7 linked regions of the Homo sapiens genome follow. The protein of the gene in region 6 purifies or fractionates together with the protein of the main gene of each other region. This does not show direct contact. Each region holds a gene or a part of one and is shown on either strand. Other genes may lie near its edges. The genes, in order: HEATR5B, CLINT1, AP1M2, AFTPH, SYNRG, AP1S2 and AP1AR.

Region 1 (4,331 bases), on a different chromosome or scaffold from region 6:
TGAAATAAAAATTATTCAAAATCTACTTTAGGAAATCTACTTATTAAACATTGGGAATGAGGATTACAGCAGAGGAGAAAGGAGAAAAGGCAACAAAAAAAGAATGATTGGATCCGAACATTTGAAAACAGACCAAAATGTAATTTGGTCATTAAAAAATCATCAGTAACACCTTATACAAATTTTAAGAAAAGCTTTATTCATTCGAAAACATATTTACACCACCCACCTTATTGCGTGAACAATATACACAAGATCTTAATCCCACAATTATTTTAAATGGGGCTTTAATCACTCTTTAAAAAGTACATAAGAAATAATGTATTCAGTGGGCAAAAGTTCTAAATCTTCAACCTACTAACTCATTCCTCTCCAACCTGTCACAAAACAAAACAAACTAAAACAAAACAAAATACCAATAACCAAAAAGCCAGTTAAAACTGATCTTTATCACAGCCACCACAAGGTATCTAAATACACAGAATATTAAATAAAGACAATTTGCCAAATTCTCACTCTTCCTGTTTAACTTTTTTCACTATCTACCACCAGGATGCCATCTTTAAGTGTCTAAGAACACTAAATGGGGATTAAACCTTTCTATACACTATTTTCTTTTTAAGTGACAATGTGTAATAGGACCATTGTTTCAGATTAAGTTAGTATTTCATTTTCCTCTATGTTTATTACCTGGTCTTCAATTGATTTATGATCAGTTTCCTGAAGCCAAGAACCAAGAAGAACACTATCATCATAATGGCAGAGGGATCTGAGGAGGGAAGTAGTTGTGTTGGCTGAGTTGTCAGTCAAAGTGAATTCCGCTACCAGTTCTCTAAGAAGTGCATTAAAAGATCCTAAAAAACAGAACTTCAGATCAGATTAAAAAGAATAATTTTTGTGAAAATTATAATCATTGCCCACAAAGAGCTGCAACATGTTCAACAGGAATAAAATAATTAAGTCTCTGTTCTCTTCTTTAAAAAAAATCTATATTTAAATGCTGGTTTTAATATACAATAATGGTACTTCCTTTCATATATTGTATTGTGTCTTTTAGCCCAAATTATTTAAAATAACCAAAAAACTCAAATAGAGGAAAGAGAGGCGGGTGCCATAGCATGCTTGTAGTCCCAGCTACTCAGCAGGCTGAGGCAGGAGGATTGCTTGAGCCCAAGAGATTGAGACAAACCTCTGCAACACAGCAAGACCCTGTCTGAAAGACACACACAAACAAAGATACTTTATTTTAAATATATTAAATGTGATATGATTATTATTATTTATTGCCCAATAATGTACAATGAACCACAGCACACCAAAATTCTTTGGCATGATTATACTGGAAAGAAATCAATAGTTTATTTTACTATTAATATTTTACATAATATTTGATTTCTCCCTCCAGATCCTCGAATTATTTGCTATATTACAGTATATAGGAAGCATTTCAGTGTATTAATCAAAAGTGCACACTTTGAAGATAAACCAGCTAGATTTGAATCCAAGCTCTGCCACTTAACTACCTCTAAGTCTTGGGTAAGTTAAGTTTCTTTAAGTCTCTCAATCTGAGATTCTTCATCTATAAAATAGGGCTAAAGGCCTCATAAGTTGCAACACAGTCAAAAAGCTAATACAAAAGGCTGAAAACGAGACCCAGAACACAGTAAGGAGTCAACAAGTATCAGCTACTCTACATGAAGAAAAATAAAATGGTGGCCTTCCTTTGCACAGTAAGTCAGTGGGAGAGCCTTTGTCAAGACTCTATAATACGGTGAAGAATTGTAAAGAAAAATTTTTATCAGATACCACAAATTTTTAATTTACCTTCATAAGTTTTTGGAGGTAACAAAGCCAAGATATCATAAAGTCTTAAACGGACCATTGCAGCACTAGCTTTCAGATGAGCTCCATGGGCTTTCATTACAGATGGAATGCTAAAATATCAAAAACATAGTTGGTAATGGCTTACCAGAATAAGTATTACTTATAAATTTTTTTAGCAATGTATCAATGTACTGCCAAACTACACTGATAAGTATACACTTTCATTTTAGCTTATGTTGTGATCTTTGCTGTAACAAAAACACTTTAAGATACAACTGTATTTCAATCCACACCATTGCTGTAATTTTTAAAGTTATATTACAAAAATAAAGTTTTATGTTTCCTAGATGATTCTAGAAGAAAGCACAAAATATGGCTGAGAAGTATATTATTAATATATAAAATAGGATGTGAACTTGTCTCAATCGCTTACTTACTGTGACATCATAGTCATGGCACATTCAATAGGGGTCATCAATTTTCGAATCACATCTTCAGTTAGTAGCTCAGGACAATGTGCAACGAAGCTCCTCATGGCTAGATAAAATGTTTAAAAGGACAGATTTGGAGTAGCTTTTGTGAACATGAATTAATTTATAAAATTGTATAAATATAAAGGCAGTTGTAATACTTAATTATTATAACGTATAAGGTTCTGAAACCATGTCGAACCAAAAGAAAAACTTGCAACAACTACAAAGAAAAATCGTGGAAAAGGCTAGAAAAAAGGTGGATAGAAAAATGGAGGAAGAGAAGGTACTGGTTAGAGAGATTCTTCGGGTGGAAATTCAGAGGACTATGATCCCATAGGAATTCAGATGACTACAAAGAAAGAAATTTTAAGGCATTGTTTATACACATATACATTTATGTGTATAAACAATGCCTTAAAATTTACATGAAATTTTTACATATATTAAATATATTTTTGCAACTTTTACAGATATATATGTATATGTGTGTGTGTGTGTGTGTGTGTGTGTGTGTGTGTGTGTGTATATATATATATATATATTTTTTTTTTTTTTTTTTTGAGAGAGTCTCACTCTGTCAACCAGGCTGGAGTGCAGTGGCGGAATCTCGGCTCACTGCAACCTCCACGTCCTAGGTTCAAGCAATTCTCCTGACTCAATCTCCTGAGTAGCTGGGACTACAGGCAAGCACCAGCACGCCTGGCTAATTTTTGTATCTTTAGTAGAGACAAGGTTTCACCATATTGGTCAGGCTGGTCTAGAACTCCTGAGAGTGATCCACCCGCCTTGGCTTCCCAAAGTGCTGGGATTACAGGCATGAGCCACAGCACCCGGCCACTACATATATTTTTGCATTTTGAATTTTTACATATATTTGTGTAAATATATATGTATATAAACAAAAATGGTCCAGTGAGAAAAAAATATTTTTATTGGCCCCTTAGCAATAGAGCCTAGACTAAAACACCTCCTAGATGTGTGAGAGTAAAGGTGCCCCCTTGCCTGGCTGCCCTTGTGGTGAAACATGTATCTCTCTCCCAGTTTGGAAAAAGAAGTAGTTTTCACTCTGAGATAAACCAAAAAAGAACTGGTACATCCAATGTCATTCTAGTTATCAAACGAAACAAAACCTGAGCGTTTCCTGTAAGCTGTTAACTCCCAGACAAAAACAACTGTATCCGTTATTTTTGTAATGTTGATATCTGAAAAATATATGAAGGTTTGGAGATTTGATAAGGATGTGAAAAAACAGCTGTTTCTCCATTATGAAAAGACTAACTGCAAATGCCAATAACTTTGGTAATCCTGAGTTTCTTTTTCTTTAAATAGCTGTTGGGTATTTTTTCTTTTTTTTATACATGGTGACTCAGTGCTTCTTTGACAGGTAAGATAGCAACAAGTGGGAATAAGAGGCCTGGGTTCTAGTTCCTGTCTAACCACCAGGTCTAAACACTTTTTCAGAGTCTGGGTTTCATTTTTATTACAAAATTAGCAAACTGAAGTGGATCATTTATAAAGTTTCTATTTAAATCTAAAAGCCTATGAATTTATCATTACCTAGTAAAATAAAAAACTATAAAATAGTGATTTTTCTTTTACTTTACAAATATTTTAGTTATGTCATAATATTGTGAAGCACAATCCTTTCAGTTCTTACCACATAGAGCTCCAGCACGACCTTCCAAAGTTACCTGCCAGGTAAAAGAATCGCCTCGGGCCTTCTCAGCTTCCAATTCCTTTAAGGAACGTGGGAAAACATTTCGCCACAATAACAACATCTTGGGCAGATGGTAACGAACGACAGATGGTCCTAGCCAAGAAAATGAGAATACAAAACCATGTATATGTAACATACCTTACAAACAAGTGTCAAGCAAAATGAGCCCAACACAAACTTTATGTAATTTTAGAGATGAAAATAGAGTAAAATACTGATGTTTAACAATATCTGTTATTTCACTCTATTTTTATCTCTAAAATTACATTATTTTCAACCTTTATTCACTGATTAAAATATAGATCAAAGCATAACAA
Region 2 (4,331 bases), on a different chromosome or scaffold from region 6:
AGGCAGAATCACATGAATCTCCAGACTTTGCCTTCCTTATCTGTAAAATGAGGGGACCTGGCTAGAGTAAGACTTTTTCCACCTTTGATGGCTATTGGAGAAATGCATTTCCATCAAGGAAAAATAGTTGGAACTAGTTTTTACAATAGCAGACAAATTTTGGAGCCATTATCCTCTGTAGACAATTTAGGCTGAAAAGGGAAATTTTCTTAAAAAGTGGTAATCAATAAATGTTATACTTAAATATTTTATGCAATAAATAAGACCATGACTCAGGAAGACTAGGACTTTTAGTGTATATTGATACCCAGTGAGGTTTTACTTCAGAAAAAGAAATGTACTCTGAAAAATGTGTTTCCTGGAGCCACTCTTAGATTCAGTATGGTAGCGGCTCTTAAGTGTAATGATGTATTTCTTTTTTTTTTTTGAGATGGGGTTTCGCTCTTGTTCCCGGGGCTGAAGTGCAGTGGCGAGATCTCAGCTCACTGCAGCTTACACTTCTGGGGTTCAAGCGAGTCTCCTGCCTCAGCCTCCCTAGTAGCTGGAATTACAGGTGCCTGCCACCACACCCAGCTAATCTGTGTATTTTTAGTAGACACGGGGTTTCGCCATGTTGGCCAGGCTGGTCTTGAACTCCTGACCTCAGGTGATCCACCCATCTCAGCTACTCAAAGTGATAATGATGTATTTCAAACACTGGCTTTTGAGACCTTGAAGACTTTTTCTGGAAGTGGGGGTATATTTTCCACAATCGCTGCACCTCCTGGTGGCAGTAGAGGGATTTGTTTTGCAGAACATTGTGGAACTGAGGGAAGCAGATAAAGCCATAGGCCTGCCAGAGCTTGGAATGCCAGTATCTTCCCACTCGTCAAGTTGCATAAAAGGCGATGTGGCAGGAAAGGATAAGTGGCACCATTCCCACCAACTAGGAGCACTAGCTTAATCATTGTCATCCTATGACCTATCTTTACTTGTGGCTGTAATAAAATTGGACATGTTTATATTTTGTCATCCTATACATGGTAAAATTGAAAGTTGCTGCAGTTCTATTTTCTCTCTAGATTTGAGGAATGTAATGAAGGTGACATGGTAGTGGTAGATCAAAACTGCTACTTATTTGTTCAAGCTCAGCGAATCCTTCTCTTTCCTTGCAAGGAGTAATATTAGTGGTAAATCTCTTTCATCAGTGACCCGCCCCCCCCCCCGCCTTTTTTTTTTTTCGGAGACAGTTCACTTTATCCCCCAGGCTGAAGTGCAATGGCGTGATTTCAGCCCACTGCAATCTCTACCTCCCGGGTTCAAATGATTCTCCTGCCTCAGCCTCCCGAGTAGCTGGGATTACAGGCGTCTACCTCCATGCCTGGCTAATTTTTGTATTTTTCATACAGCTGAGGTTTTGCTGTGTTGGCCAGGCTGGTCTCAAACTTGTGACCTCAGGTGATCCACCCACCTCGGCCTCCCAAAGTGCTGGGATTACAGGCATGAGCCACCTTGCCCAGCCTCAGTGGCCCTTTTTTTGATAGTGATTCAAACAGCTCTGGCTAAGGTCCTAAGGCAACAGCTATGGGTAGTCCATTTTAAGTTATTCTCCTAAGCATAGCTTGCATTTTCCCTCATAAGTTGATTTTTATTGATGTATATTTGCTTGGTTTTAGTTCCTAAATGTTTAGATAATGTAATAGAGCTGTAGAAACTGCTGTTCTAGTCTCCTGACTCCAGAGGGAGAAACTTTTGCTTTTATAAAGAATAGTATATTCATTTATTTTAACAGGCAATACATTTGTTATTTATTGGATTAGTAGTCTGGTTTCTTTTTATTTTTTATTTTTGAGACAGGGTCACACTCAGTTGTCCAGGCTGGAGCACAGTGATGCAAACATGCACACTGCAGCTGGGACCACAGCTGCGCCTCCATGCGTGGCTAATTTTAAAAAATTTTTTTGTGGAGAAGGGTTCTTGCTATGTTGCCCAGGCTAGTCTTGAACTCCTGGGCTCAGGCAGTCTGCCTGCCTCAGCATCCTGAAGCGCAGGGATTACAGGCGGGAGCCATTGCGCCTGGTCTAGTACTCTATTTTCTGAACTCGAAACATACAATACCTGCCTTCAAGAACCTTGCCACTACAAATATGCTACAACTTGAATGGATTATTTTTCTTTTCTTTTCTTTCAGTCTTCAGATATCATCCCCTTTATTTTCTTTATCTTACCAGTAAATCTCTGTTCAGTTTGCTTCTTGGAATTTGAAAGCAGAGATAGTAAGATAGTTGTCAGCTTTCTAGTCTTCCCATGTCAACTTTTCTTTGAACCGATTATAAGTAATTGTTATTGCTGAAACAATGAATTAATTATTCTCCTCCTTTTCTAGTAACTGGACACAAGTAGATATTAGGAATTTAATTCCAAAGAAAGATGAGTTTGGTTTATCTCTGCTAGCATTTCTTAGGGGTAATTTTCTGTAGTTTAATCTATTTAGTACTACTGTCAGGGTGCTTTTAAAAAGCACTTAACTGCCTCTTATGTTTTCTTGCACACTTTAGTATTAGTTTACAAGCAGTTTTTCTTTTTTTTTTTTTTTTTTTTTTTTTGAGATGGTGTCTCGCTCTCGTTGCCCAGGCTGGAGTGCAATGGTGCGATATTGGCTCACTGCAACCTCTGCCTCCTGGGTTCAAGCAATTCTCTTGCTTCAGCCTCCTGAGTAGCTGGGATTACAGGCACGTGCCACCATGCCCGGCTAATTTTTGTAATTTTAGTAGAGACGAGATTTCGTCATGTTGGCCAGGCTGGTCTTGAACTCTTGACCTCAGGTGATCCACCTGCCTCAGACTCCCAAAGTGCTGGGATTACAGGCGTGAGCCTCCGTGCCCGGCCTACAAAGCAGTTTTTCATCTGTTTACTGATATGTCCATTGAAAGTACTTAGCCTTTTTTATTTTGAGTGCCATTTGCTAGTAATCCAAGGTTTCACAATATGGCTCTACAGTTGAGTCTTTTTCTGGACTTTTTTTTTTTTCTTTCTTTCTTGAGATGGAGTCTTGCTCTGTCTCCCAGGCTGGAGTGCCATGGTGTGATCTCAACTCACTGCGACTGGCCTCTGCCTCCCAGGTTCCAGCGAGTCTCCTGCCTTAGCCACCCAAGTAGCTGGGATTACAGGCATGTGCCACCATGCCCAGCTAATTTTTGTAGAGACGGGGTTTCATCACTTTGGCCAGGCTGGTCTCGAACTCCTGACTTCATGTGATCTGCCTGCCTTAGCCTCCCAAAGGGCTGGGATTACAGGCATGAGCCATTGCCTCTGGCCTTTTGTATGCTTATATTATTTTCCTACTTGTTTCCAATGTTTGTTTTAATGAAGATCACTTCACAGATTCAAAGTACATTTTTAGTACTTTTGAAGGTTCTTATATACAGTTAACTTTTTAGTCTCAGCTACCTTTGGTGACAACATATTTTACTGTTTACTCTTCTGTGTTTTTCAGGTTAACGCTTCATGTGAGCTTTCCTTGTTTAGCTTAATTATGTGTGTTTGTCCATCTATGTATTTTTATAATAATTTGCTAGCCAAATATACTTTGCCACTATACTTAGGTGCCTCCAGATGGTGTTTAATAAATGTGGGAATAGCTAGTGGTTCAGAGGTGAGAACTGGATTGAAATCTTAGGTCTGCTACTAGAAACGGTGATCTTATGTGTTAGAATGGTATCTTTATTTCTCTGTAAAATAGAGATGATATTTTATAGGATTATGAGGATTAAATGTGAAACAGTATAGTACTTGACATACAGTAAACTCTTGAAACATCTATTACTGTTATTACTGTTACACACAAAACAGTATAACACTAGAAAAATCAAAGGAATACAGTGTTTGTGAAAATAGAGATATCATTGTCAGACTAGGTTATTTGTAAGTATGTAGGAACTATATCTTCATCCATGAAATCATTATTTTCAGTGAGTACTCTCTCTTAAGACTCAGTTTAGCCTACATATAGGACAGCTAATTTAAATACCTCTGTTGTTTATGCCTTGTATTATTTTTGCTAAATCATAAATGGCTTCTACTTTAATATTGCAAAGCATATTGCAGAAATACCCTTTCAAAAGACATGTTGAGGAATAAAGTCTTTGGAAAGACATATCGCGAATTCCATCTGCCAATTCTTAATATTTTGTTCAGCTTGTTTTGTGTATTCTCAAGATTTTAAAGTAACTGCTAATGTAAAACATTACTAAAACATAAAAAGATTTATTTCATAAATGCAAATTGAAGCAGACAATTTATTCTTAAGAGACTGAACAATATCAAGAAAAAGAATCCTCTAAAATATGTGA
Region 3 (3,402 bases), on a different chromosome or scaffold from region 6:
GCACTCCAGCCTGGGTGACAGAGAGAGACTCCGTCTAAAAAAAAAAAAAAAAAAAAAGGCCAAGCATGGTGGCTCACGCCTGTAATCCCAGCACTTTGAGAGGCCGGGGTGGGCGGATCACGAGGTCAGGAGATCGAGAACATCCTGGCTAACATGCTGAAACCCCGTCTCTACTAAGAATACAAAAAAAATTAGCTGGGCGTGCTGGCGGGTGCCTGTAGTCCCAGCTGCTCAGGAGGCTGAGGTAGGAGAATGGCGTGAACCTGGGAGGCGGAGCTTACAGCCAGCCGAGATCGCGCCACTGCACTCCAGCCTGGGCGACAGAGTGAGACTCCGTCTCAAAAAAAAAAAAAAAAAAAAAAAAAAAAGGGCTTGGTAAATATTTGAAGGATGAGCAAGCGAATTCTTCGTGCCCCATGCTCGCTCCCCTGACAGGCCAAGGGGCAGTTTAAGAAACAGTCAGTGGCCAACGGTGTGGAGATATCTGTGCCTGTACCCAGCGATGCCGACTCCCCCAGATTCAAGACCAGTGTGGGCAGCGCCAAGTATGTGCCGGAGAGAAACGTCGTGATTTGGAGTATTAAGTCTTTCCCGGTAAGTACCAGGGACTGGCGGGGGATCTGGGGGTGGAGGGGACTGGAGTAGTGTGGGGGCTGCCCAGGAGCCATGAGAACAAGGCAGAGAACAAATCAGAGACCCAGTCAGGTGTGATGGCTCATGACTGGAATGCCAGTACTTTGAGAGGCTGACACGGGCAGATCGCTTGAACCCAGGAGCTGGAGACCAGCCTGGGGAACACAGTGAGACCCTGCCTCTATAAAAATATTAAGAGGAGCTGGGCGCAGTGGCTCACGCCTGAAATCCCAGCCTGGCTAACATAGAGACGGCTAACATCCGTCTCTAGTAAAAGTACAAAAATTAGCTGGGTGTGGTGGCGCATGCCTGTAATCCCAGCCACTCGGGACACTGAGGCAGGAGAATTGCTTGAACCCGGGAGGCAGAGGTTGCAGTGAGCTGAGATTGTGCCACTGCACACTCCAGCCTGGGCAACAGAACGAGACTCCGTCTCAAAAAAAAAAAAAAAAGATTAAAAGGCCAGACATGGTGGCTCATACCTGTAATCCCAGCACTTTGGGAGGCTGAAGCGGGCAGATCACCTGAGGTCAGAAGTTCAAGACCAGCCTGGCCAACATGGTGAAAACCCGTCTCTACTAAAAATACAAAAATTAGGGCAGGGCACGGTGGCTCACGCCTGTAATCCCAGCACTTTGGGAGGCCGAGGTGGGCGGATCACGAGGTCAGGAGATCGAGACCATCCTGGCTAACATGGTGAAACCCCATCTCTACTAAAAATACAAAAAATTAGCCGGGCGTGGTTGCAGGCGCCTGTAGTCCCAGCTATTTGGGAGGCTGAGGCAGGAGAATGGCCTGAACTCGGGAGGTGGAGCTTGCAGTGAGCAGAGATCACGCCACTGCACTCCAGCCTGGGTGACAGAGCGAGACTCCATTTCAAAAAAAAAAAAAAAAAAAAAATTAGCCGGGCATGGGGGTGTGCGCCTGTAGTACCAGCTACTCAGGAGGCTGAGGCAGGAGAATCACTTGAACCCGGGAGGCGGAGGTTGCAGTGAGTTGAGATCACGCCACCGCACTCCAGCCTGGGTGACAGAGTGAAACTCTGTCTCAAGAAAAAAAAAAAAACTTAGAAAAAAGAAATACAAGGCCAGGCGCAGTGGCTCACGCCTGTAATTCCCAGCACTTTGGGAGGCTGAGGCGGGCAGATTACGAGGTCAGGAGATCGAGACCATCCTGGCTAACACTGTGAAACCCCGTCTCTACTAAAAATACAAAAAAAAAAAAAATTAGCTGGGCGTGGTGGCGGGCGCCTGTAGTCCCAGCTACCGGGAGGCTGAGGCAGGAGAATGGCGTGAACCTGGGAGGCGGAGCTTGCAGTGAGCCAAGACCGCACCACTACACTCCAGCCTGGGCGACAGAGTAAGACTCCATCTCAAAAAAAAAAAAAAAGAAAAAAAAAGAAAAAAAAAGAAAAAAGAAATACAAGTAAATCAGAGAGGTACGTATGTATGCAAGTGATCAAGCTTGAAACCAGGCCAGTCTATTTCACAGACGTGTAAACTTCCATGACGGGAAGTGTGTGGATTTAAATATCCCCCTGCCAATGTCTTGAGGAAACCAGCCCTGGGTTCACCTTCCTCACTATTGCTTTGCTGAGCTGGGTGGGTTTGGGAAACCCATTTCCACTTAAGGAGGCTCAGTTTGCCTGTCTGTGAAATGGGCAGGATGAGGTGACCCACATCCCTTGGCTACTAGAGGTTTTGGTTTGTCCCCATGATCTTGGGAGAGGTGGATCATCAGTGCCTGTAAAACAGGACATGGTAGTTAAAAAAAGAAAAAAACCCTGATTGGGTTTTGCAGTCAGAATCTTCCCTGGTGAGTCTCTGTCACCCAGGTTGGGGTGCAGTGGTGAGATCATGGCTCACTGCAGCCTCAAACTCCCAGACTCAAGGGATCTTCCTGCCTCAGCCTCCCAAGTAGCTGAAACTGCAGGCATGTTCCACCGCACCCAGCTAATTTTTAAACTTTTTGTAGACATGGTATCTCAATATGTTGCCCAGGCTAAGGAGCCTTTATTTTCCTGTCTGTGAAATGGGCTGTGAGCAGATCTGACTCCAGGGGTTGCTGAAAGGAAGGTCTCGGGAGGGTAGGCGGACCCTCGTGTACCTGATGCCCCCATGTTCCCTCAGGGGGGCAAGGAGTACTTGATGCGAGCCCACTTTGGCCTCCCCAGTGTGGAAAAGGAAGAGGTGGAGGGCCGGCCCCCCATCGGGGTCAAGTTTGAGATCCCCTACTTCACCGTCTCTGGGATCCAGGTGAGAGAAGCAGGCAGGGAGGATCCTCCCCTTGACTTCGGTGGGTTCCCCTCTCTCCTGTCCCTTGGCTCGAGTCACCTCAGTCCCCTGGCCTGTGTCAACACTCCTCTGAAGGCTGCCTGGTCTTTCCCAGAGCAATGTTACCTTTATCTGCCCACAGCCTGTGCTCCCTCTCCCCCGGCCTGTGCCACCTTGTTCCCCACCGGCTTGTTCACTTCTGTCCCTTCTCCACCTCCAAAGCCATTCACCATTCCGTTGCCTGTGCCACCTCATCCCCCTAAGACCATGTGATATCCCCTCATCGATCCCAGCCTGTGCCACATAGCCGCTTGGCCTAAGCCGTCTCTTTCTCCCTGGCCCTGGCCTCCTCCCTCCTGCAATCCTGGACCACCTCTTTTCATTCCCTTCCAGGTCCGATACATGAAGATCATTGAGAAAAGTGGTTACCAGGCCCTGCCCTGGGTTCGCTACATCACCCAGAGTGGCGGTAAGGCAGCCCAGCTCCTGGGGACAA
Region 4 (4,331 bases), on a different chromosome or scaffold from region 6:
TTTAATGTTTTTGAGACAGGGTCTCACTCTGTCACCCAGGCTGGAGTAGTACAGTGGTGTGATCACAGCTCACTGCAGCCTTGACTTCCTGGACCCAAGCAATCCTCCCACCTTAGCCTCCCAAGTAGCTGGACTACAGGTGCATGCCACCATGCCTGGCTAATATTTTGTTTTTTTTGTAAAGACAGGGTTACATCATGTTGCCCAAGGCTGGTCTTGATCGAACTCCTGGGCTCAAGTAATTCACCCTCCTCAGCCCCCCAAAGTGCTGGGATTACAGGTGTGAGCCACTGCGCCCGGCTGCTTTTAAACTTTAGAAAAAGGGCCGGGCGCGGTGGCTCACGCCTGTAATCCCAGCACTTTGGGAGGCCGAGGCGGGTGGATCATGAGGTCAGGAGATCGAGACCATCCTGGCTAACAAGGTGAAACCCCGTCTCTACTAAAAATACAAAAAATTAGCCGGGCGCGGTGGCGGGCGCCTGTAGTCCCAGCTACTCGGGAGGCTGAGGCAGGAGAATGGCGTGAACCCGGGAAGCGGAGCTTGCAGTGAGCCGAGATTGCGCCACTGCAGTCCGCAGTCAGGCCTGGGCGACAGAGCGAGACTCCGTCTCAAAAAAAGAAAAAAAAAAAAAAAAAAAAAAAAAAAACTTTAGAAAAAGGAATCCTGTAGTTAATGGCTGTATAATATGCTATTGTAGGGATATAGTATAACTTGCCTAAATAATCCCTTTGCAGCATTTTGTTTTAGATTTCCTTAAAAGGAGTTTGCATAGTACAACCATATTGCCTTCTGGAAGGCTTGTAACAATTTACACTCACAAGCAATGTGCATGTGTGCAAGGGTTCCTTTCCCCACATTCTCATTAACAATCGCAAAGTGATTTTAAATAATAGGAACTTCATAATTAGAGGGACATAGTTAGAGGTCAGATTACCTCGTACACTAATTAGAAGGGGTTATCAGGACACTAGGCAAGGGAACAAAATAGGATTTGTGTGTATCTTGTACTTTTTTTTTTCTATTTAAATCAGCAGCAGGAAAGAAGAGTATGGCAGAGCAAAGCAGTTATTTCCTTCTTTATGGTGCTAATTTCGTAAGAAAGATAATTTGAAGTAGATATATTACAATGGAGCCTTTTCCTTTTCTTGTGACTTGCTCATTTCTTCCTGGTAACTCTGAGTGACTGACCAGTCGTTAACCTCAAAGATCCTTTTCAAAATTCTGAAGCCATTCTCCACTAAGCAGCTGTCTGAATGAACTTTGGGAAAGTTACTCACTAGTTGGCTTCATTTTCCTCACCTCTAAATTAAACTATGTGGTTTCTACGGTACCTTCACTCTAAAACTGTGGAAGATCTTAGGAAATTTTATTCTGAGAGAAGTCTAGCTTGCAAAACTGGTTGAATTTTGTAGTAAACATTTTCCTCATGTATCTAACTGGGCAGCTGTGAGTTGTAAGAAGTATCTGTTTATTATTTATGTGCTGGTTTTATTCTAGGACTTTGGCTGTTAGTCCTCCCTTTTTTTTTTTTTTTTTTTTTTTTTTTTTTGAAACCGAGTCTCACTCTGTCACTCAGGCTGGAGTGCTGTGGCACGATCTCGCCTCATTGCAATCTCCACCTCCTGGGTTCAAGTGATTCTCCTGCCTCAGCTTCCTAAGTAGCTGATATTACAGATGTGCACCACCACGCCCGGCTAATTTTTTTATTTTTAGTAGAGGTGGGGTTTCACCGTGTTGGCCAGGCTGGTCTTGAACTCCTGACCTCAAGCAATCTGCCCACCTCAGCCTCCCAAAGTGCTGGGATTATAGGTGGTCCCTTTGCTTGTAATGTTAAATCTGACCTGTGGAACTTTTGACTCCTCAGCACAGAGGAATAGAATAACTCAGGTTTCATTTAAGAATTAAATGTATTAAAAAGAAGCTATTACAAATTAATTAGTATGGGAAGGATTATTCAACAAAAGGGATTAAGACCATTGCTTGGCTGTTGAGAAAAAAAAAATTCACCTTACATTTTTGCTTTACATCATACACCAAAATAAGTTCTAGATGTGTTAAAATTAAATGTTTTTTATTCCCTAAAAGTAGAAGAAAATAAAAGTGAATATTTATTAACTTTTATATGACAGCAAAATAATGAAGAAAGTTGCATAAAACTTTCTTCATCTTCGTGAAAAAATCAATTGATTTGACTTCCTAAAATTAACTTGGGAAAACAGCTTGGCAGTTTCTTATAAAGTTGAGCATGCTACATGACGCAGCATTCACACTCCTGGGTTTATATATTTTAGAGAAATGAAAACATGGGTTCACATAGTAATCTGTACATGAATGTTCATAGCAGTTTTATTTGTAATAGGAAAATACTGGAAACAACCCACATATCCTATATGGAGTGAATGGGTAGACAACCTGTGGTACATCTATACAATGGAATGCTAGTTAGCAATGAAAAAGAGTCAGACCCAGGAGTGGTGATGTGCACCTGTAGTCTCAGCTACCCAGGAGGCTGAGGCAGGAGGATTGCTCAGCCCAAGAAACCAGCCTGGGCAACATAGTGAGACCCTGTCTCTGAAAAAAGAAAAAGAAAAGGAATGAACTGTTGACAAATGCAGCAACATGGATAGCTCTCAAGGGCATTATTAGGCTGAGGGAAAAAGCCAGCTTCAAAGGGTTATGTATTGTGTGATTCTATTTATATATAACATTCTTGATGTAACAAATTATAATGATGTAGAATAGATCGAGGATTAGGGTTTAGGGAAGAGTGTGACTATTAAGAGGTAACATGAGGGAGTTTTTTTTGTGTTGATAGAACAGTTCTTATCCTGATTGTAGTGATGGTCACTCTAATCCACACATATAAAATTTTTAGAACTGTACGCATGCACACACACACACACACACACACACACACACACACACACACACACACACACACAACTGGTGAAATCCAAACAAGGTCTGTACCTGAGTTAATAGTATTGTACTGATGTCAGTTTCCTGGTTTGACCATGTGTTATGGTTATTACCTTATTACTATATTACCATTGGGAGAAGCTAAGTGGAATATACACAAGAACTCTTGTATTTCCAACTTTTTTTGAGTCTTAAACTATTTCAAATTATTAAGTATTTAAAAATTAACTTGGGTCAGAAATAAACATTGAAAAGCCAAGTGAAGAAAATATTTGTAACAATTATTACTGATAAAATTTTGATGCCTTTATTAATATAAAGAACTCATACAAATCCATAAGGCAAGCACTGAATCCTTAATGAATTGAAGGAGAACTTAACAGAATAAGCACTTACCCCAGGAGAGAATTTTGTAGCTGTACTTTTGTAAGTGTATATTCAGAATTATCTGGAATCCCCACATTTCATTAATGTACTACCAGTGCTCTTGGTAACATGTAGTCTAAGAGAACTTTTTTTTTTTCCAGTGCACTATAGCTGTGTAAAGTAATTGCACCTAAGAGAAAAATAGATTAAAAGATACAAAACATCATGCAGGACATGGTCAAGGAAAAAAGGAGACAAAATAGAGCATTGTAAATTTGCATTGTTTTAAAGTAGCTTTGAGAGAATTTTGAAAGATCTTGTTCTATGTAATCTGTCCCCTCCAAAAATTCTTTTTTTCTTTTTTACAGGTGTAAATTAATTATTTGAAAGCAACTGAACAATGGAGCCAGACATCATTCGAATGTACTCTTCATCCCCACCACCATTAGACAATGGAGCAGAGGATGATGATGATGATGAATTTGGGGAATTTGGTGGGTTTTCAGAAGTTAGCCCTTCTGGTGTAGGGTTTGTTGATTTCGATACACCAGATTATACTCGTCCCAAGGAAGAGTTTGTACCTTCAAACCATTTTATGCCAATTCATGAATTCTCAGAAAATGTAGATAGCCTTACAAGCTTTAAGTCCATTAAAAATGGTAATGATAAGGACATCACTGCTGAACTTTCTGCTCCTGTGAAAGGACAGTCTGATGTTTTACTTTCTACCACCAGCAAAGAAATAATTTCATCTGAAATGTTAGCTACTTCCATTGATGGCATGGAAAGACCAGGAAATTTAAATAAAGTAGTGGAGCAGAGACAGAATGTTGGAACACTTGAAAGTTTCTCTCCAGGAGATTTTAGAACTAATATGAATGTTGTTCATCAAAACAAGCAGTTAGAGAGCTGCAATGGTGAAAAGCCTCCTTGTCTGGAGATTCTAACAAATGGGTTTGCAGTGTTGGAAACTGTAAATCCTCAGGGAACAGATGATCTGGACAATGTAGCTGATTCAAAGGGACGGAAGCCTCTTAGCACTCAT
Region 5 (4,331 bases), on a different chromosome or scaffold from region 6:
TGACTCCCGGATTAAGAGCCTTTCTCACTCAGAAGTCTTCCTTGATTTGTCCCTTTTTCTTTCCAGGCTCAGAGAAAGAAGTCCCACTTCCTTTTCAAAGCAGATCCCTTTTGCTACTTTGTTTTGTTTTGTTTTGTTTTGAGACAGAGTCTCCTTCTGTCATTCTGTCTGCTCAGGCTGGAGTGCAGTGGGGCAATCTCAGCTCACTGCAACCTCCGCCTCCTGGGTTCAAGCAATGCTCATGTCTCAGCCTACTGGATAGCTGGGATTACAGGCACATGCCACCACGCCTGGCTAATTTTTGTATTTTTAGTAAAGATGGGGTTTTGTCATGTTGACCAGGCTGGTCTTGAACTCCTGGCCTCAAGTGATCCGCCTGCCTTGGCCTCCCAAAGTGCTGGGATTACAGGCATGCACCACCTCATCTGGCCCCCTTTTGCTCCTTCGCGTGTTAATCCCATTTCCTTAAAAACCTTATAAATCACTAGGTATGTATTTTGTCTCTTAAATTTTTTCTCCCTAGGGTCTCTTCCCCTTTCTTTGTTGAAACTAACTCACTTAACAATCACCATTTTTGAAAGCAGTGATTTATTTTTTAATCTTCATTCTCACCGCTATTCTACAGCATTAGACACTGGTAACTACTTCCTTGTTGAAATGTGGTCCTTCTTCAGTTATAACTCTCAGTTATAAGCACTCCCTTGGTTTTCAATGACCATTTCCTACTCAGTTTTCACTGCAAGAATTCTCCAAGTTTGTCCTTAGTTGTTTTGTTACTGGATATATGCCCTTGGCTATTTCATCTACAACCAGAGCTTAATTTTTTTTTTTTTTTGAAACGGAGTTTCACTCTTGTTGCCCAGGCTGAAGTGCAATGGCGCGATCTTGGCTCACTGCAACCTCCGCCTCCTGGGTTCAAGTGATTCTCCTGCCTCACAGCCTCCTGAGTAGCTGGAATTGCAGGCATGCACCACCATGCCCAGCTAATTTTGTATTTTTAGTAGAGATGGGGTTTCTCCATGTTGGTCAGGCTGGTCTGGAACTCCCAACCTCAGGTGATCCACCTACCTTGGCCTCCCAAAGTGCTGGGATTACAGACGTGAGCCACTGCGCCTGGCCAGAGCTTAACTTTTTAACCTTTATTTATTTATTTATTTGAGACGGAATCTCACTCTGTCGCCCAGGCTTAACCTTTATTCAAAAGAGCCTAGGCCAAGTGCCGTAGCTCATGTCTGTAACCCCAGCACTTTGGGAGGCCAAGGCAGGCAGATCATGAGGCCAGGAGTTCAAGACCAGCCTGGCCATCATGGTGAAACCCTGTCTCTACTGAAAATACAATAATTAGCCAGGTTTGGTAGTGCTCGCCTGTAGTCCCAGCTACATAGGAGGCTGAGGCAGTAGAATCACTTGAGCCTGGCAGGCGGAGGTTGCAGTGAGCTGAGATCATGCCATCACACTCCAACCTGGACGACAAGAGCAAACTCCGTCTCAAAAAAATAAAATAAAAATAAAGTTGTCAGCTTAAAAAAAACCTTAGAAGAGAGCTTTCTTACGCTCTAAAATGAGGACTTATTGTTTAATGGGTACAGAGTTTCTGTTTGGGATGATGGAAAGGTTCTGGAAATGGATAGTGGTAATGGTTGACAATATTGTGAATGTCCTTAATTATGCCATGGAATTATACACTTAAAAATGGTTAAAAATGATAGAATTTTATGTTATGTATATGTTACCACAATAACAATAAAACCTCTGACAACTTCATATAATATTCAAAATAAAATGAAACATTTTAAAGGCCCTTGACCAGGTGCGGTGGCTCACACCTGTAATCCCAGCACTTTGGGAGGCCGAGGCGGGTGGATCACCTGAGGTCAGGAGTTTGAGACCAGCCTGGCCAACATGGTGAAACCCTGCCTCTACTAAAAATACAAAAAATTAGCCAGTCGTGGTGGCGGGTGCCTGTAATCCCAGCTACTCAGGAGGCTGAGGCAGGAGAATTGCTTGAACACAGGAGGTGGAGGCTGCAGTGAGCCAAGATCGCGCCATTGCACTCAAGCCTGGGCAACAAGAGCGAAACTCCATCTCACAAAAATAAATAAATAAATAAAAATAAAAATAAAGGCCCTGTACAATCTGCTTGCTTTTAAATCATATAGTTAACATTTAACCTACATTCATTTCTCCAAACATCCCTGCATCTCTGCCTCAGAGCTTTTGCTCAAAATATATAGTGTGCTTCTATTTTCCTTCAAGATTCAGCTCCAGAGCTACTTCCATAAAACTTCTCAAGATATAGCCCATTAAAATTCATCTTTTTCTTCTCATCTCTATTAATAATTTGGACCTCGCTTATAGCAGTTAGCACATTTACCCTGTGGTATAGTTATTTGCCTGCATATGTGTATTTTTGATTATAAGATTCCATCATTTCATGTAGTTGACACTCAATAGATGTTGACTGAATTGAATCTAAACTCTCTCATTTTATAGATGGGGAAACTGGAATCCAGAGAGGACACGAAGTGACAGAGCCAGGACTAATTTCAGGGTCTTCTGTCTTTTGTTTCAACAAGTTTCCGTCTGCAGTAGCATGCTGACATGCATCCTATGGATGCTCAGTGTACTGATGTTGGGCAATTCAGTATTGTGGTGCAGAACAAACACCAGGTCCCATCTACAAGTCTTTTATCCATATAAAAAAGTACACGTGTTATTTGAAATCTTTGTACATACGAAGATTATAATGTATTTTTATTCTGTTTTCAGCTTCATGTTTCCTGTTGCAGGTGGGATAAGACCCCCTCAAGGTATGTGAGAGCTTAAGTTTTGAACTTTTATTTTTCACTCTTGTGTTTCTGAATCTGGGAATTAAATAAGTAAATAGAAAATAAGTTCTGTTGCTGCTGAATAGAGTAAAATTTTCTGCACTCTTAAACCTGTATGTCCTATATGACAGCTACTCTTAAATTTTCTCAAAAATTATATAATTTTGGGAGTAATAAGGATCACTCCTCGTTTCTCCCAAACTTACATAGACATTATGTTCATAGATTGTTTAACCTCAGAGGTGAAAGACTTTTAGGACAAGAATGTTAAAGAACAGGTGATAAAAATGAAACGAGCTGTAATTCACTTAATGATGTCTTTCTCCTTCTATCTAGTCTTCTGCTAGATTGTTAGTGCCATGTCTGTCTAATGCTCATCTAGCATTATTTGTAGCACCCAGCATGTTGATTCAGCACAATAGGTTATCTGTAGATGTTTGTTGAATGAATAAACAAACATCTTTAGTTGTTTTACACTGCTATTTTTTATCTATATGATAGTATCTTATTATAATCATGTTTTATAAATATATAATTTTGAAATTAAAAGAGATCACATAGTCTGATTCAGCTTAAGTATTTAAGTCTCAGGATTTTGTTTGGTTTTTTATTTTTATTTTTGAGATGGAGTCTCTTGCTCTGTCGTCCAGGCTGGAGTATAAGTGGCACAGTCATAGCTTACTGTAGCCTCAGCCACCTAGGCTCAAGCATTCCTCCCACCTCAGCTTCCCAGGTAGCTGGGACCACAGGTGCATACCACCACGCCTGGCTAATTTTTAAATATTCTGTAGAGACAGGGTCTCCCTATGTTGCCCAGGCTGGTATCAAATTCCTCGGCTTAAGCGATTCTCCTGCCTTGGCCTCCCAAAGCACTGGGATTACAGGCATGAGCCACCACATCCGGCCAAGTCTCAGTTCTATTCCTAGAAATTTCTCTAAGTATACCTTTTCTCTCTTGGTCTCAGACTAGGACCCACCAATATCAATTCTAGCTTTATCTTCAAGGAAATAGTAGTGAAGGAATATAATTTTGACCCATGCTGCCATGCAACTGGGACACAACAGTGAAGAAGGAATAGATCTGCCTTCATCTGGCTTCTTTCCGCTCATTTCTTTCACTCTGACAGTCTTCCCTCTCCCGTCACACCAAGCTGCTTCTGAAAACTGGCTCTTCTTAAAAAGCCAGCGTTGATTGGTTGTCATAGATTTGCTAAAGAAACAGAGACTCCTAGGTCAGCAGTAGAGATAAAAGATAAAGAGCAGCTCAGTAGCAGGTGGTCAGTGGCTCATCCTGACTTTGTCTTCATTTATAATCAGTGATGGTGGTTGGGTTTCAGGTAAGTTTTTCCAAGGCTCAGTTGTATTCTTTTCATCGTGTTCACATTTATGCATTATTTAAGCTATCTGTAATTAGATGTGTCCCAGATTGAGATCAAATGGTTTGAGATCTTTTGTTCTTTAGGAAGGTATTACAGAGTTATGTGTCCATTATCATGTTTGTTA
Region 6 (3,585 bases):
AAGTAATTTACTTAAGATTACACCATGAAGTGCTTTACATGCAATTAATATTCTAAAGATTTATGGTTTAATATAATTTCTCTTCTCCTTGCTTTGTGCTGTACCATGATTAGGATGCGAAAGTAAGTTTATTACTGGATGCCAAAAATTTATATTATTTTCCATCATTAAAATATAGTGTTGCCTTTTAATTACAAAATTCGTTGCTAGTAATACCTGAAAGTTGGCCTCCTTGGTCCTTTATTTTGTGATTTGCAAAATCAGCCACTTTGGAAAATTATTAAATAATTTTTTCCTGGATATGCTTACTTTGTTTTGACCTCCTTTGACACTTAAAAACCAGTGCTGGTTGCTACATAGAATAAAAATGCCTTTGGCCCATGGCATTCTTTGCATATGTGGCCTCTAGTGATGCCATTGGTTGCACTGGGGAGGTCTGGGAAGATAGCTGTTTCTGAAGACTTGCCGCTGTGGACACAGTTAACTAAAAACTCCAAGAGGAAGACATTTCTATAAATGCATGTGACAAAAAGCATGGAACACAACAGTAGGCGAAGAACTGTGGGAACTCGGAGGGAAGAGGTTTTGAATTTTACCACTAAGATAACTTATCTTTCATATATATAATTGAGTAGCAGTGATTTCATAAATTGCCAGCAGGTTTGCACTGGGCTTGACTGCTTTTTGCATGACAGCAACGGCATCTAGCACATTGGTAGGTAATTAGCAGGTACTTAATGAATGCTGAAAACGTCCTTTTGTGGTCTCCAATTTTGAGGGCACAAAACCCTAAATAACCAATGGCTGTCAACTAGAATGCTACTGTGACACGAAATTGCTTTCTTGATTCTCTAAAACAAGCATGTTCTTCCATGTCAATGTTTCACATTCTCAAGACTCCCTGGATCTGCTTACCAGAGTCTCACATTTTCCCTCCACAGGAAGCTGAAACCCCACGTAGTGTTCTTGAAGAAATTGGACTGACATAACTCTCCTCCCTTGTTGATGACTTCTTGTGGCATTTCACACACTGTAGATGGTCACTCCCTTCATGTCCATGTTAGCTCATGGTGTAAGATGATGTCTTGTCAGTATTACTGTTTTGCTAAGCCGCTTCATTCATGCCTACACAATTTTTTTTTAAAAGGGAACTTTAGTTAATTAAGTGATAAGGGACTTAAATATGAATTAGAATGGTGCAGAAAGAGATACCTTTTCTGGATATTTTAAAGTTTAAAGGTCAGTTTCTCTTAATCTGATTATGTGCACATATGAAAATGGCACATCATATACATGTAAAATCAGGCAGTATACATTTATTAATTACTGTATTTGACAAAGGAAACTCTTAAATTATAATGTGAAACCTGGTTTTATGAAACCAAAGACTAGTGCAGCATTTCAGCATATGTAAAAAAAAAAAAAAAGGGAATTGACATGTCACATATCAAATGAATGGAAACTTTGTTGAAACTTTAAAAAGCAAATTTACTCCAAAGACTTGTATTGGAAATTACATACCTTTTTTTTTTTTTTTTAAAGGACTACAGATTATTTTTAATGACTAAATTGGAGTGATACTTCTTACACTAAAAATTATTTCTTAGGCATTCTGAATCTGGGATGAGAAACAGGATTGTTTCACAATAGTAAGCACATAATTTTTAAGGCCAAGGCACATTTGACTCCTGAGATGAATTTTTTGTGGTCATAATCAAATACTTAGTTGTTTTTGATGCCCCAAAATAAAGTGAGAATGGTAATTTGCCAGGAATTCTTCATAACAGTATCTTACAAAAAACGTGTTGCTCTCTTCACAGTATTATGTGTAAAGTCATTGTTTAAAGCACGAATGTTCCCTCTGGGGTACTTGTTAAAGCTAAATTTATTTTGCTTCCCTCCACTTAGAAGTGCTGCACACTTTACAGCAGCTTCCTTTCTTTCCATGGCACTGCCTAGTTAACAGAAGTCTTATAAAAATTTAAAAAGACACATTTCTTACAAAAAAGAGTTGAATGAGGTAAAATGGCATTAGATGGCTCTATATTTTTTAAAGCTATGTAATTGTTCAGCGTCACTTTTCTAAGTACTTATACATATCTAAACATGTCTTCATGGTTTATATTTTCACTTATATATGCTGGGCTGGATTAAGCTTTGTTGTGATTGTGACCAACATTCAGGCCACGTGAGCACTGTCTTATCACATCGCCAATTAGTTGTAATAAACGTTCAACGTACAAACACTGGAGTGTGTTTTTATCTCTTTCCAAAAGTTTGTCAAACTATGCAGAGCTGCTGAAGGAAGAATTTCTCATTTTTTTTTCAGTAAAATGTTGAAAATTCCCCTCCATTTGAATATGGTGGTTGTTATAAGCACACACAAGATACATGGTGGAAGATCTAAGGAGTCTTCATGTACTTCATTAAAAAATAACATGGATTCCATACTGAGAGCCTATCTACACATTTATTTTCAATCAATAAATGCTGCTTTTAAAACCTTGATGCAGTTGACTTTTCTACTCTTTCTGAATGAACAACTTAGACTGTTACTCAAAAGGTATTTCAAATCAACTGGATTCCTCTTACCCCCTTGTGAACTGAAGGTGCTAGCACATGCAACAGAAAGGGACTAATACTTGCAGACTGTACTACCTAACCTATGCAACAAATCAAATCTATGGTAATCATGATAGTTAAGGGACCTCCTATTACTACAGATAGGAAATGTTACATTCTAAAACTGGGCTATTTAAGAAGGAGGCAGGAACTACCATCAAATTAAGTTGCTAGTCTACTGGAAAAAAAGACGTTTATAGGTTTAAAAAGCCTCCAACATGCAGCTAGCTATTCACTGAAAACAGGCCTGTGGGTTTCTGCTAGCAATGTATAGTTGGAATTTTTGAAACATAAATAGTAATCAGGCAATATATATTAAAAAAAACTAATAAATTTAAGTTCAAGATGGACATTTATCAGGATAATGAACCAGTCAGTGGTTTAAAAACTTCCTGCCCTTCTACCCTGCCTATTAACATTTGAGGGGAAAGTCATCAATATCTCAGTTGTCCTGAGCTCAAGATGGTGGTTTTCTTTCTTAGCCTCCATGATTTATTAAGATTTCAGCTTTGCAGACCACATTTAATTGCATATATCTTGACTGTATTTAGAAAAGTATTAAAAAATACTGAATTTAATGATAATTACTCGGCGTTACTGAAATCAGTAGATAGTTCTAGGTCAATCATTTTCAGGGTGAAGCAGGCATTTAGAGTCTGGAACAAATCCAACTTTTTAAAGTGAAATTATCCTGGGCCACATGCATGATTTCTTTTATTGACTACACATGAAAGAACTCTCATCCTTAACAGATATCATGCAGAAATTCCAATTTTGAGGAAACTTTCTTCCTACTTAAATTTCGTTAACGTTTCAGTATTTTACGTATGTTTTAAGTCCTTATTCCCAAATCTCAAATTGAAAAATGTCACATACTCCAAAATTCTAGATCCCAAATATGTCAATGGAAAGAAAGCGACAAAAAATTGATAAAGCTGGAGAGCATCTTATTTATGATCAGAA
Region 7 (5,131 bases), on a different chromosome or scaffold from region 6:
TTAAACATCATTTGGAACATACATATAATTTTCTATCCTGATTTTTCACACATTATTCAGCAAGCATTTTTCCATATTGTTTTAAAAAATATATTTATTATGTCTATATAACAAGAATACACCAGCAAATTTAATCATCCTTCAATTTTTGAGCATTTAGTTTGTTTCTGGCTCTTGGTATTTCCAAATAATTTCTCAGAATGAGTTTCATTATCTGCAGCAGTTTAGAATAGTACCATTTCATTGTATCCTTGCAAATACTGAATATTTCTAACTGTAAAGCTTTGTTAACTTGACAAGTGAATCAATACAAATGACTAAAACATGCATTTTAATTTGCATTATTTTGCTTAGTGAAGTTTTTAAATGTCTTATTCATTTGTATTGCTTCTGAGGATCATTCATATCCTTAACTGAGAGAACAGATTTACTATAAAAAAATTATTTTTAAGTGAGATTCAGTTTTAATAACGGTTTATAGAATGTCTATAGGAAGTGCTGTCAAGTCTATAGCTGCATTTTTTTAATCAAACTTTTTATATTGAGACAATTGTGTCACATGCAGTTTTAAGAAATAATATACAGATGACCGTGTATATCTTTAATCTAGTTTCCCCCAGTGGTGACATGTTACAAAACTATTGCAATATCACAACCAGAATACTGACATTAATATAGACAAGATGCAGGATTTCCATTCCCTGACCCATGGCAATCAATTATTCTGTTGTCCACTTACATAAATTTATCAATTCTGAGATGTTACATAATGGAATTACACAGTATATAAGCATTTGAGATTGGCTTTTTCTTTAACCATAATTTCCTACAGATTCATTTCAGGGTGTGTTCATCAATACTGTGTTCCTATTTGTTACTAAATATTCCATAGGATAGATGTACCAGTTTCTGTAAACATTTATAGTTGAATTTTAATGATTATTTCATTAATACATTTGTCTAATTTCAGGGGTTGGAAGGAGAAAAGAAAATGCTTTCACTAGGAAGTCATTCGGTCATCCCAACATTCACTGAAAGCAAACCATTGGGACAAATGTTATCCTATGCTTCTGATTACAAAACAACTAAAACCCAAATAAAATAAACATTAGTAAGTAGCAGTGCTAAGATTGAAACCAGATACGTATTTAAAGAAGCAAGAAAATGAGTTCAGAGAACATTTTATCATCAATAAAAACTTTCTAAAATGTAACAATTTTTCTAGGTTTAATTAAACAGGCTAAAAACTTGATGTGTCCAGTCCATGAGAGCATCCTCCTATCCACTGGACGAGGTGTCTACTAAACCACATCTTATATCTATTGTGAGGCCAACTGTCTTGAGGCCAAACAAGACGCGAATTATATGGTAGCACTTGAGAGGGCTGCGGACACATTAGAGCAGCTTTCTCTTCCCATCTACAGCAGTTCTGGGCAGCATGCTTGGAATGGCAACGCTGACGTCCCCGAAAAACCCCAGCCCTCTTGCCAATTTCCTCTGAACCCCAACTACCCAACCCAAAATTATGTGAAGATCTGATTTTCAAACAAAACGAGGACAATAATGCACCATTATTACGTTTCCCTAAAACATTAACAGTATGGAAATTAAGACACAAACCAGAGACCGGAAAAAAATCTTGGTGCGTTCAAAGTAACCTCAATCAGTTCCCGAGTCTATTTTCCGCTTATGGTGCAGTATTAACAAAAACTAAGCACACCGTGCAGAGAAACGCCCCTTCGCACTTATGACTTCCGGCCTGGGACTCTGGCTCCTCACACGCCTTTGATACAAAGTTCGAAGGCTGAGCCTTAGCCATGCCACGCCCAGCGTGCTCCGGACGAGGATGCCCGAAACTGCAATGAGAGAGGGAAATTTCCTAGTCAGGTCAAGGTCCAACAAAACAAACGTCCGCACGCAGGAATTGAACCGTCTCGCAGGCAGAGGCGGCTGAACCAGGAGCGAGCGGAAGTGACGCACAGGCCGGTCGCCAGAGAAGGCGGGGCACCGAGGTAGCGCGCCCAATTGGGGCGCGGGAGAGGCCGGGGGTGTGGCAGCGTTGGCGGCGAGCAGGGGCCTGGGCGCGCTGGGGGCGGGGCCAGGGTGCTCGGCTCGCGGGGACTGGCCTCCTTCGGCAGCTGGAGGCGGTCACTCACGCTGGGCTAGGAGCTGAGGCGAGAAGGGCCATGCGGACGGCGAGGGAGTCCAGAGCCTTGAGCCCGGTGCTCCTCCCTCGCGCAGCGGTGGCTCTGCGGCCGCTGGAGTAAACACTGCCTTTGTTCCCTAGCGCCTCGTCTTTCGTCGCCCCGTGCCCTCACGCCGCCGGGCTCTGGCCGGCCCGCCCTCGGTCCTTGAACCCCATTTCGGCTCGTGCCGTGCGGATGCAGCTGCCGGGCCTGGGTTTGGGCATTGAGCGGGAGGAGGAGGAGGAGCGGCGGCGCCTGGGCGGCATGCGATGGGGAACTGCTGCTGGACGCAGTGCTTCGGACTGCTTCGCAAGGAAGCGGGGCGGCTGCAGCGAGTAGGCGGCGGCGGAGGGTAAGCCCGCTGGGGGAGGGGCCCGGCCCCCGTGGCTCCTCCTCTTCGGCCCCCGGCGGGGAATCCCTTTCACCGTCCCCCGGCGGCTGGAGGTGGCGGTCGAGAGCCCTGCTACACTCACTGCTTAGCAGACGTCAGACTGGTGGTCGTCTTGGAGGCCCAGTCTGGGGTCCGGTCTTGGGGCCTCCTCGGAAAGAGGTAGAAGAGGGGGCGGGGTGTCCCTCCTGCCAGGGCGCCCTGTCACGCGGGGAAGGAGTCACGGGAGACATCATCTCCAGGAAACAAGGGGTAGCTTCGCGCTAATGGGCTGTAGGACCGGCTCCACGGCAACCTGGACACACCCTGCGCTGAGCTTAGGTTTAACGCCAAAGCTAGTATCCCTGTATCTGACCCTCTCTTTAGCCCTGGCAGAGCAGGTGGGATCTGGCTCCGGAGTTAATGCCTCAGATTGATTTTAAGTAGAAGTCATTTGGATGCTGGAGTAAAATAAGGTTCCAGATACTGATGAACTCTGGTAGCTACAAAGACTTGCTGAATTGCAGAGTTCCCAATGGGCATTCAGATTCTTGGTGCTCATAACTACAGGGACAATGTGTAATTTTTTCGTATTAAGTTTTTGAAATTTCGAGAGGAATTCCTTGCCCTGATTGCTACTCAAACGTCCTGTAACATTAGGTAAATTGCAGTCCTTCTGAACTTCACTTCTCTTGAGTAAACCTGGGATATTGCTTAGGTTTTGTATATGCACCATCCACAGAATAGTAATTTCATAATTCCGTTTTTGTGTTTTTTTATTTCATATATATTGAAAAAATTAGAGCAAATTCCTTTGGGGTTGGCTTTGTTGTTATTAAATGTCCCTCCGGAATTCAAACCTAGAATTGAAAATCTGAACCAAGCCAGTTTGTGTAAGGACTAAGACTGTTTTGCACTTTCTGAAACAGATTGCTAATTTTTCATAATCTGTTCCATTTAACTAACATTATTGGGTAATAAGATGTTCAACATAAATAAATTGCAGTAAATGATCATAATTTGAATCTTTGGTAATGGAGATCTTATAAAATATAGGATTCTCATTCATTAATTAGGCATTGTGTCACCTCTCTGATACAAAATAGCTAAGGTTTTACACTAAGTATCCCTAGAATGGAAGGGCAAGGATTTGCAGTTTGTGCCTAGTGTAATATTTCGATTTCCCTAATTTATGAGTTATTACTCTTGAGTGGGACATGACAGTTGTTTTATCTTGTCATCCAGGATCATCTGGTTTAAGTATTTATAATTTTTGTGTGTGAATGAAACTTACAAGGTCAAGCTGCTTAAGTAGGCTTGCCCAATAACTAGATGCCACACAATCTTTGGCTTTTACTATTATTTGTAGTTGTGTTACAGGGCGTTAAATTCTAACTCCAAGAAAGTTGGTTGGTGAGGGAGCAGTACTTACATTCTAAATGGATAAGCAAAAAACTTTATATTTGACTTTGGACTACATGATGTGTCTGTGGACTTTAGTTTTGTTTTTTTCATGGGGTCTCCGTAGAGTACGGCATTAAAATTGTAGGTTCTACTCCCTCAGCTCGTGAGCTTGGCAGCACAGGGAGGTGGCAGGAGGAAATCCATGAATCAGCGTGAGTGTTAATTGTCTGTAGATATGCCATAAAAACATAAGCAGGTGGAGTATTTCTTTCTTTTTTTTTGAGACGGAGTCTCGCTCTGTCGCCCAGGCTGGAGTGCAGTGGCGCGCGATCTCGGCTCACTGCAACCTTCGCCTCCCGGGTTCACGCCATTCTCCTGCCTCAGCCTCCTGAGTAGCTGGGACTGCAGGCGCCCGCCACCATGCCCGGCTAATTTTTTTGTATTTTTAGTAGAGACCGGGTTTCACCCTGTTAGCCAGAATGGTCTTGATCTCCTGACCTCATGATTCGCCAGCCTTGGCCTCCCAAAGTGCTGGGATTACAGGCATGAGCCACCGCGCCCGGCCAGCAGGTTGAGTATTTCTTATCTGAAATACTTGCTTTGGAGTTCAGATTTTTATTCAGATTTTGGAATATATGCATTATATACTGGTGTAGTATCTGAAAATCTGAAATCCAGAATTCTCCAATGAACATTTTCTTTGAGTAACATGTTGGCACTCAAAAAGTTTCAGATTTTGGAACATTTCAGATTTTGGGTTTTGGGGTTAGGTATACTCAACTTGTGGTTGGATTTTTACTGTTTGTGGGCAAAGCTCTTTGAACAAGTCCTGTGGAGGCAGTGAGAGTTTATAGGTTGTGGACACTGTCATCTAAAATTATATAATGGTGATATTGATCCTATTACTTTAAGTCTATAAACAGGATTTGACGGTTCCCTTACTTGAATTTTCTGATTAACTTATTGTTTAACATCAATTTTAATACTGTTTTAGCAGCTTCCAGTAAGCATGTAGAGACAGATGGATATAGTTACTTGTGCAATAAGGTTAAACTCTTATTTTAGTTTTTTTTTTTTTTTATCAGCTGTTTTGATTTTCTTTCAAGTATAGGTCTGGATAGTTAGTAGTTCTTCTAAAGGTGAAAAAGTTGAGGAGTAATCACAAAAACTTGAT

Evidence for each region.
Region 1: the proteins of AP1S2 (region 6) and HEATR5B purify together in Homo sapiens (affinity purification with mass spectrometry; 3 studies listed by BioGRID and IntAct, with this or other methods). This does not show direct contact.
Region 2: the proteins of AP1S2 (region 6) and CLINT1 purify together in Homo sapiens (affinity purification with mass spectrometry; 3 studies listed by BioGRID and IntAct, with this or other methods). This does not show direct contact.
Region 3: the proteins of AP1S2 (region 6) and AP1M2 purify together in Homo sapiens (affinity purification with mass spectrometry; 3 studies listed by BioGRID and IntAct, with this or other methods). This does not show direct contact.
Region 4: the proteins of AP1S2 (region 6) and AFTPH purify together in Homo sapiens (affinity purification with mass spectrometry; 3 studies listed by BioGRID and IntAct, with this or other methods). This does not show direct contact.
Region 5: the proteins of AP1S2 (region 6) and SYNRG purify together in Homo sapiens (affinity purification with mass spectrometry; 3 studies listed by BioGRID and IntAct, with this or other methods). This does not show direct contact.
Region 7: the proteins of AP1S2 (region 6) and AP1AR purify together in Homo sapiens (affinity purification with mass spectrometry; 3 studies listed by BioGRID and IntAct, with this or other methods). This does not show direct contact.

The regions. Positions count from the first base shown.
Region 1 is NC_000002.12:37,056,627-37,060,957, forward strand, and holds part of HEATR5B (HEAT repeat-containing protein 5B), read right to left. Parts: intron 4,108-4,331; coding exon 3,955-4,107; intron 2,362-3,954; coding exon 2,262-2,361; intron 1,935-2,261; coding exon 1,825-1,934; intron 855-1,824; coding exon 691-854; intron 1-690.
Region 2 is NC_000005.10:157,852,032-157,856,362, reverse strand, and holds part of CLINT1 (clathrin interactor 1), read left to right. Parts: intron 1-4,331. UniProt on the Homo sapiens protein: Binds to membranes enriched in phosphatidylinositol 4,5-bisphosphate (PtdIns(4,5)P2). May have a role in transport via clathrin-coated vesicles from the trans-Golgi network to endosomes. Stimulates clathrin assembly.
Region 3 is NC_000019.10:10,574,390-10,577,791, reverse strand, and holds part of AP1M2 (AP-1 complex subunit mu-2), read left to right. Parts: intron 1-435; coding exon 436-594; intron 595-2,762; coding exon 2,763-2,888; intron 2,889-3,299; coding exon 3,300-3,375; intron 3,376-3,402. UniProt on the Homo sapiens protein: Subunit of clathrin-associated adaptor protein complex 1 that plays a role in protein sorting in the trans-Golgi network (TGN) and endosomes.
Region 4 is NC_000002.12:64,547,789-64,552,119, forward strand, and holds part of AFTPH (aftiphilin), read left to right. Parts: intron 1-3,316; exon of another isoform or gene 3,317-3,476; intron 3,477-3,654; 5' UTR 3,655-3,686; coding exon 3,687-4,331. UniProt on the Homo sapiens protein: Component of clathrin-coated vesicles.
Region 5 is NC_000017.11:37,598,842-37,603,172, reverse strand, and holds part of SYNRG (synergin gamma), read left to right. Parts: intron 1-2,769; coding exon 2,770-2,810; intron 2,811-4,331. UniProt on the Homo sapiens protein: Plays a role in endocytosis and/or membrane trafficking at the trans-Golgi network (TGN). May act by linking the adapter protein complex AP-1 to other proteins. Component of clathrin-coated vesicles.
Region 6 is NC_000023.11:15,824,729-15,828,313, reverse strand, and holds the end of AP1S2 (AP-1 complex subunit sigma-2), read left to right. Parts: intron 1-113; coding exon 114-122; intron 123-941; coding exon 942-989; 3' UTR 990-2,508; downstream 2,509-3,585. UniProt on the Homo sapiens protein: Subunit of clathrin-associated adaptor protein complex 1 that plays a role in protein sorting in the late-Golgi/trans-Golgi network (TGN) and/or endosomes.
Region 7 is NC_000004.12:112,229,637-112,234,767, forward strand, and holds the start of AP1AR (AP-1 complex-associated regulatory protein), read left to right. Parts: upstream 1-2,150; 5' UTR 2,151-2,455; coding exon 2,456-2,538; intron 2,539-2,639; exon of another isoform or gene 2,640-2,736; intron 2,737-5,131. UniProt on the Homo sapiens protein: Necessary for adaptor protein complex 1 (AP-1)-dependent transport between the trans-Golgi network and endosomes. Regulates the membrane association of AP1G1/gamma1-adaptin, one of the subunits of the AP-1 adaptor complex.